Linked DNA regions of Homo sapiens. The protein of the gene in region 2 purifies or fractionates together with the protein of the main gene of each other region. This does not show direct contact. Each region holds a gene or a part of one and is shown on either strand. Other genes may lie near its edges.

Region 1 (3,814 bases), on a different chromosome or scaffold from region 2:
CGGCTCCAGGGTTTAATTCAGTGGTGCAATTGTAGCTCACTGCAGCCTCGAACTCCTGGGCACAAGCAGTCCTGGCACCTCAGTCTTCTGAATAGCTGGTACTACAGGCGTGTGCCACCATGCCTGGCTATAAATGCTGTTTTCAGTCATAGGCTTTGAACTATTTAAAAAAAAATGCCCACAATCCTTTGTTACATGTTATTTGTTAGTGAATATATATAGTGGTGTGTATAGTTTTTCTCAAAGCAGTTTTCATCCTGCTTTCCTGTGCTGCTAACGTGTTGACTTGTATGGATATTTTGAGGTGGGGGGAAATGAGAGGTGCAGTTTTAGAATTTCTGAGTCTGAGAATTTTAATTCGTCATTACTTTATGTGGAATCTTTTTTTTTTTTTTCTTTTTTGACACAGGGTCTTGCTCTGTCGCCAGGCTGGAGGCAGTGGCACAATCTCGGCTCTCTGCAACCTCCGCCTCCCGGGTTCAAGCGATTATTCTGCCTCAGCCTCTTGAGTAGCTGGGACTACTGGCATGTGCTACCACGCTGAGCTAATTTTTGTATTTTTAGTAGAGATGGGGTTTCACCATGTTGGCCAGAATGGTCTCAATCTCTTGACCTTGTGATCCGCCTGCCTCAGCCTCCCAAAGTAGTGGGATTACAGGCGTGAGCCATCGCTCCTGCCCAATTTTTTATTTCTACCATATTCTCAAGATACATTGGTACAGTTCTTAGGCTTTCAATGGATGATTGGGAGGAGGGGGAAACTAGATGTTTATGTTGTTTTTGGATGAATTATACACAATATATCTGGGTCATACGTATTTGCCTTTAACTCCCTATCTTTTATTTTGGAAGAATTAGTGGTGAATTCTTTATATTGAAAGTGAGTTTTTCAATTTTAAAGTTGGAAAATCATCTGGCAACATCATGACTATACTAAAAACCAATGAATTGTATACTCTAAAATTGCTGCAATATTATGTTTTATGTTATGTGAATTTAATCTCAAAACATACAGGAAAATATCAGCTGGCAGTTTAATGGCCCTTTCCGGTTTGTGTTGCAATTCTTAGTTGTGATGGATGTGTGTTCGCTTTACAGGGTTGTTAATCACCGTGTGGATTTTTAGAGTTTTTGAGTGTTTTTGAGGAATGGCTCAGGAAATCTGATGTGTTACTTGGATTCCTAACATCTTTTTTTTTTTTTCTCTTCAAGTCTTGTTAATGGATCATTTTGTACTTTTAAAATCCCTTTCTCCTCTCTCTCTCCAGTCTTATTGCCAGCAGTTTTGAAGATGACTCCCGTGTAGCCTCACCGTTAGACCAGAACGGAAGCTTCAATGTTGTTATTAAAGAGGAACCTCTAGATGATTATGACTACGAACTTGGTGAGTGCCCAGAAGGGGTCACTGTGAAACAGGAAGAGACAGATGAAGAGACGGATGTATACTCAAACAGTGATGATGATCCTATACTAGAGAAACAGCTAAAGAGGCACAATAAAGTTGACAACCCAGAAGCTGACCATCTATCTTCTAAATGGCTTCCAAGCAGCCCATCAGGTGTTGCTAAAGCTAAAATGTTCAAATTAGACACTGGAAAGATGCCAGTAGTCTATCTGGAGCCCTGTGCTGTCACCAGAAGCACAGTTAAGATTTCTGAACTCCCCGATAACATGCTTTCCACATCTCGAAAGGATAAATCTTCTATGTTGGCAGAATTGGAATATTTGCCTACATACATTGAAAATTCCAATGAGACTGCCTTCTGCTTAGGCAAGGAATCAGAAAATGGTCTTAGAAAACATTCACCAGATCTCAGAGTGGTACAAAAATATCCCTTACTGAAAGAGCCTCAGTGGAAATATCCTGATATATCTGACAGCATTAGCACAGAAAGAATACTCGACGATTCAAAGGATTCAGTTGGAGACTCACTTTCAGGAAAAGAGGACTTGGGCAGAAAGAGAACAACTATGCTTAAGATTGCAACAGCCGCAAAGGTAGTGAATGCTAATCAGAATGCCTCTCCAAATGTCCCTGGAAAAAGAGGAAGGCCACGAAAATTGAAACTCTGTAAGGCAGGACGACCACCTAAGAACACAGGAAAGTCTTTAATTTCTACAAAGAATACACCTGTAAGCCCTGGGAGTACCTTTCCAGATGTGAAGCCTGATCTGGAAGATGTGGATGGTGTTCTCTTTGTTTCCTTTGAATCAAAGGTAAGATTGTAATTTTCAGGATTCTTTAAGGCTAATTAGTCATACTTGAATTGTATACTGGCTTGTAAGTAACTCGATTTACAATCTAGTTTTGTGATATCTATTTGTGAGGGTGTATGGGGGGTGGAGTTGGGAGGGAAGTGTCTCCAAAATGTTTGGTTTAGTTAATAGGAATAACTTAAGATACTTCATTTGAATAGACTTAAAAAAGTATGTCTTGCTTAGATTTCAGTTTACGATTTTTGCATAGCTGTGTTTAAAAAAAGTCTTCGGGTCTTACTGGAATTTTCATCATTATGGATTTTGGAAAGGACTAAAAATACATGAAATATTTACTAACTCTTTGGTGACGCTCCATTTCTTTTACCTCCTGGTTTTCTTTTATTTTTCTTTTCTTTTTTTTTTTTTTTTGAGACAGAGTCTTGCTCTGTTGCCCAGGCTGGAGTTCAGTGGCACGATCTCAGCTCACTGCAATCTCCGTCTCCCGAGTTCAAGCCATTCTCGTGCCCCAGCCTCACGAGTAGCTGGGATTACAGGCGTGTGCCACCACACCCAGCTAATTTTTGTAATTTTGGTAGAGACGGGGTTTTGCAATGTTGGCCAGCTAATTTCTAACTTCTGGCCTCCAGCAGTCTGCCTGCTTCAGCCTCCCAAAGTGCTGGGATTACATGCATGAGCCACCGCTCCTGGCCCTGGTTTTCAGTAGTAGTAGTAGAGTACCATTGGAGAACCAAATATTAACAGTCATCTTAACTCTCCTGTCTTACACATTGAAGTCTCTGTTTATTCCACTCTGACTCTTCAACCAGATTATTTTTCTTGGAAATTTTTATAGAAGCCCAGTCTTTTTTTATTTATTTTTTGAGATGGAGTCTCGGTCTGTGGCTCATGCTGGAGTGCAGTAGCGCAATCTTGGCTCACTGCAAACTCCGCCTCCTGTGTTCTTGCCATTCCCCTGCCTCAGACTCCCGAGTAGCTGGGACTACAGGTGCTCGCCACCATGCCCGGCTAATTTTTTTTGTATTTTTAGTAGAGACGGGGTTTCACCATATTAGCCAGGATGGTCTCGATCTCCTGGCCTCGTGATCCTCCTGCCTCAGCCTCCCAAAGTGCTGGAATTACAAGCGTGAGCCACTGCCCCTGGCCTCTTTTTTTTTTTTTTTTTGAGACGGAATCTTGCTCTGTCACCAGCTGGAGTGCAGTGGCACAATCTTGGCTCACTGCAACCTCTGTTTCCCGGGTTCAAGCAGTTCCCCTGCCTCAGCCTCCCGAGTAGCTGGGACTACAGGTGTGCATCACCATGCCCAGCTATTTTTTTTATTTTAGTAGAGACAGGGTTTCACCATGTGGCCAGGATGGTCTCAATCTCCTGACCTTGTGATCCACCTGCCTCGGCCTCCCAAAGTGCTGGGATTATAGGCGTGAGCCACTGTGCCAGGCTGTCTTTCTTAATTGACTACACAGATGTTGGATATTTAATCCCTTCTACCTGTTCTTTTCCTCCCTTCTTGTTAGCTGAGTAAGCTATCTGAATATAGGCTCTGAGAAGTGAACATGCAAATTGGCGTATACTTTGAGGTCAGTTAGCTCAGTATGA
Region 2 (3,814 bases):
AAGACAGAAACTGACCAGGCGTGGCTCATGCCTGTAATCCAAGCATTTTGGGAGGCTGAGATGGCAGGATCAACTTGAGGTCAGGAGTTCGAGACCAGCCTGGCCAACATGGTAAAACCTCGTCTCTACTAAAAATACAAGTTAGCCAGGCATGGTGGTGGGCACCTGTAGTCCCAGCTACTCAGGAGGCTAAGGCACGAGAATCACTTGAACCCAAGAGGTAGAGGTTCCAGTGAGCCCAGATTGCACCACTGAACTCCAGTCTGGGCAACAGAGTGAGACTCTGTCCCCAGAAAAAAAAAAAAAAGACAGAAACTGGGTCAGGTACAGTGGCTCACACCTATACTCCCAACACTTTGGGAGACCTAGGTAGAAAAATTGCTTGAGGCCAACAGTTTGAGACCAACCCTAGCAACATAGCAAGAACTCCACAAAGAAATAAAATAAAAACGTTGGTGAGGTGTGGTGGCGTGCGACTATAGTCCCAGTTATTCAGGAGGCTGAGGCAGGAGCATCCCTTGAGCCCAGGAGTTCGAGGCTGCAGTAAACTATGATTGCACCACTGCACTCCAGCCTAGGCAAAAGTGAGATCCAGTCTCAAAAAAATAAATAAATGTTTTAAAGACAGAAGCTTGGCCAGGCGTGGTGGCTCATGCCTGTAATCCAGCACTTTGGGAGGCCGAGGTGGGCAGATCACAAGGTCAAGAGTTTGAGACCAGCCTGTCCAACATGATGAAACCCCGTCTCTGCTAAAAATACAAAAATTTGCCGGGCGTGGTGGCATGCACCTGTGGTCCCAGCTACTCGGGAGGCTGAGGTAGGAGAATCACTTGAGCCCAGGAGGCGGAGGATGCAGTGAGCCAAGATCACACCACTGCACTCCAGCCTGGGAAACAGAGCAAGACTCCATCTCAAAAAAATAAAAAGACAGAAGCTGGATTTTCATATTTGCTTCTACATTCAAAGAGATATGGAAAACTAAAAATTCAGTCTTCTAATTTTTTTTCTTTTGGGACAGTTCTTTTTATTTTCATAAAAATATTTATATTAACATGTCACTGATTTATTCAGCCTCCTGAGTAGCTAGGACTACAGACGTGCACCACCACGCCTGGCAATTTTCGTATTCTTTTTTTTTCTTGAGATGGAGTTTCACTGTGTCACTCAGGCTGGACTGCAGTGGCACATCTCAGCTCATTTTAAAATGAGTTAGCGAATAAGTATTTTTACATGTCAATTTTTTTTGTTTTTTTGAGACACAGTCTTGCTCTGTCCCCCAGGCTAGAGTGCAATGGCCTGATCTCGGCTCACTGCAACCTCCGCCTCCTGGGTTCAAGCGATTCTCCTGCCTCAGCCCTTTGAGTGCTGGGATTACAGGCGCCTGCTACCACGCCCGGCTAATTTTTGTATTTTTAGTAGAGACGGGGTTTCACCATGTTGGCCAGCCTGATCTAGAACTCCTGACCTCAGGTGATCCACCTGCCTCAGCCTCCCAAAGTGCTGGGATTACAAGCATGAGCCACCGCGCCCAACAATTTTTGTATTTTTAGTACAGACAGGGTTTCACTACGTTGGCCAGGCTAGGCTCAAACTCCTGACCTCATGATCCGCCTACCTCGGCCTCCCAAAGTGCTGGGATTACAGGCATGAGCCACTGCATCCGGCCAATTTACATGTCAGTTTTAACTTTTCATGTAATAAAAAAGCAATAGATAAAGCACATTAACAAAGCTCCTTGAAACTCTAATTTTTTTTAATTTTTTTTTTTGAGACAGGGTCTCACTCTGTCGCCCAGGCTGGAGTGCAATGGCGTGATCTCGGCTCACCGCAACCTCCGCCTCCCAGGTTCAAGGGATTCTCCTGCCTCAGCCTCCCGAGTAGCTGGGACTATAGACGTGCACCACCACGCCTGGCTAATTTTGTATTCTTTTTTTTCTTTTTTGGAGACGGAGTCTCGCTGTGTCACCCAGGCTGGAGTGCAGTGGCACGATCTCAGCTCACTGCAAGCTCCGTCTCCCGGGTTCACGTCATTCTCCCGCCTCAGCCTCCCGAGTAGCTGGGACTACAGTCACCCGCCACTATGCCCGGCTAATTTTGTTTTTGTATTTTTAGTAGAGACGGGGTTTCACCATGTTGGCCAGCCTGATCTAGAACTCCTGACCTCAGGTGATCCACCTGCCTCAGCCTCCCAAAGTGCTGGGATTACAAGCATGAGCCACCGCGCCCAACAATTTTTGTATTTTTAGTACAGACAGGGTTTCACTACGTTGGCCAGGCTAGGCTCAAACTCCTGACCTCATGATCCGCCTACCTCGGCCTCCCAAAGTGCTGGGATTACAGGCATGAGCCACTGCATCCGGCCAATTTACATGTCAGTTTTAACTTTTCATGTAATAAAAAAGCAATAGATAAAGCACATTAACAAAGCTCCTTGAAACTCTAATTTTTTTTAATTTTTTTTTTTGAGACAGGGTCTCACTCTGTCGCCCAGGCTGGAGTGCAATGGCGTGATCTCGGCTCACCGCAACCTCCGCCTCCCAGGTTCAAGGGATTCTCCTGCCTCAGCCTCCCGAGTAGCTGGGACTATAGACGTGCACCACCACGCCTGGCTAATTTTGTATTCTTTTTTTTCTTTTTTGGAGACGGAGTCTCGCTGTGTCACCCAGGCTGGAGTGCAGTGGCACGATCTCAGCTCACTGCAAGCTCCGTCTCCCGGGTTCACGTCATTCTCCCGCCTCAGCCTCCCGAGTAGCTGGGACTACAGTCACCCGCCACTATGCCCGGCTAATTTTGTTTTTGTATTTTTAGTAGAGACAGGGTTTCACCGTGTTAGCCAGGACGGTCTCGATCTCCTGACCTTGTGATCCGCGCACCTCGGCCTCCCAAAGTGCTGGGATTACAGGTGTGAGCCACCGCGCCCGACAATTTTGTATTCTTAGTAGAGATGGGGTTTCACCATGTTGGCCAAGCTGGTCTCGAACTCCTGATCTCAAGTGATCCACCCGCCTCAGCCTCCCAAAGTGCTGGGATTACAAGCGTGAGCCACTGCACCCAGCCTGAAACTCTCAATAATTTTTAAGAGTACAAAGCAGGTTCTGAGACCAGAAGATTTGAGAGCAGCTGGCTTAATCCTTGACCACCGTGCTGCTCAGAGAGCCCCATGAAAGACCTGGTCTCCACTGAATTTCAGCTACTAGGACAGCATCTGGCACTTTGCAAAAAGATGTACAATTTAGCACTTACCAATGTGGAATCTGAGCTGCACAAAACTCATGAGGCTTACCCCGGAGGGCTCCACCCAACACAGGGGCAGGATCACCTTGGCCAAGTACCTGGGAGATGAAGTCCTTCTCCAGCTCCTCCTTGGGCTTGTCTGGGCACCTCGAGGCCTCCTCGCACTCCCCCCTAACACTGTAGTTCTGTGACAGGATCTCTGCGAGGTTGAACTGATGGTCTCCAGAGCCCATGGACACCACTGGGGAGAAGAGAGCAGCCCAGGTGAGCACCGTGCCTCGCCTGTCCCAACCATCCTGCCGAGACTACTGACGCCTGGTGAAGCCCTAAGGATGAGGCCCTCTGCATGCTGCCAGGATCAGCCTCATGAGGGAACCCAACAGGACACCCCACGACTAATGCACACAGGAGCACGGCTGGTGAGCTGCACATACAAATTCCAAGGATTTTTTTGGGGGGTGGGTGTGTCTCTTTCTGAGAGACTGCTTGTCTTCCTGAACACAGAGAAGCCTGCGAGGATTTGGGGAGCAAGTGGACTAGAAAGAGACCAACACCCATCTCGTTAGGGTAGAAGGAGCAG

Evidence for each region.
Region 1: the proteins of MIER2 (region 2) and MGA purify together in Homo sapiens (affinity purification with mass spectrometry; 3 studies listed by BioGRID and IntAct, with this or other methods). This does not show direct contact.

What each region holds. Positions count from the first base shown.
Region 1 is NC_000015.10:41,694,807-41,698,620, forward strand, and holds part of MGA (MAX gene-associated protein), read left to right. Parts: intron 1-1,268; coding exon 1,269-2,217; intron 2,218-3,814. UniProt on the Homo sapiens protein: Functions as a dual-specificity transcription factor, regulating the expression of both MAX-network and T-box family target genes. Functions as a repressor or an activator.
Region 2 is NC_000019.10:331,068-334,881, forward strand, and holds part of MIER2 (mesoderm induction early response protein 2), read right to left. Parts: intron 3,476-3,814; coding exon 3,333-3,475; intron 1-3,332. UniProt on the Homo sapiens protein: Transcriptional repressor.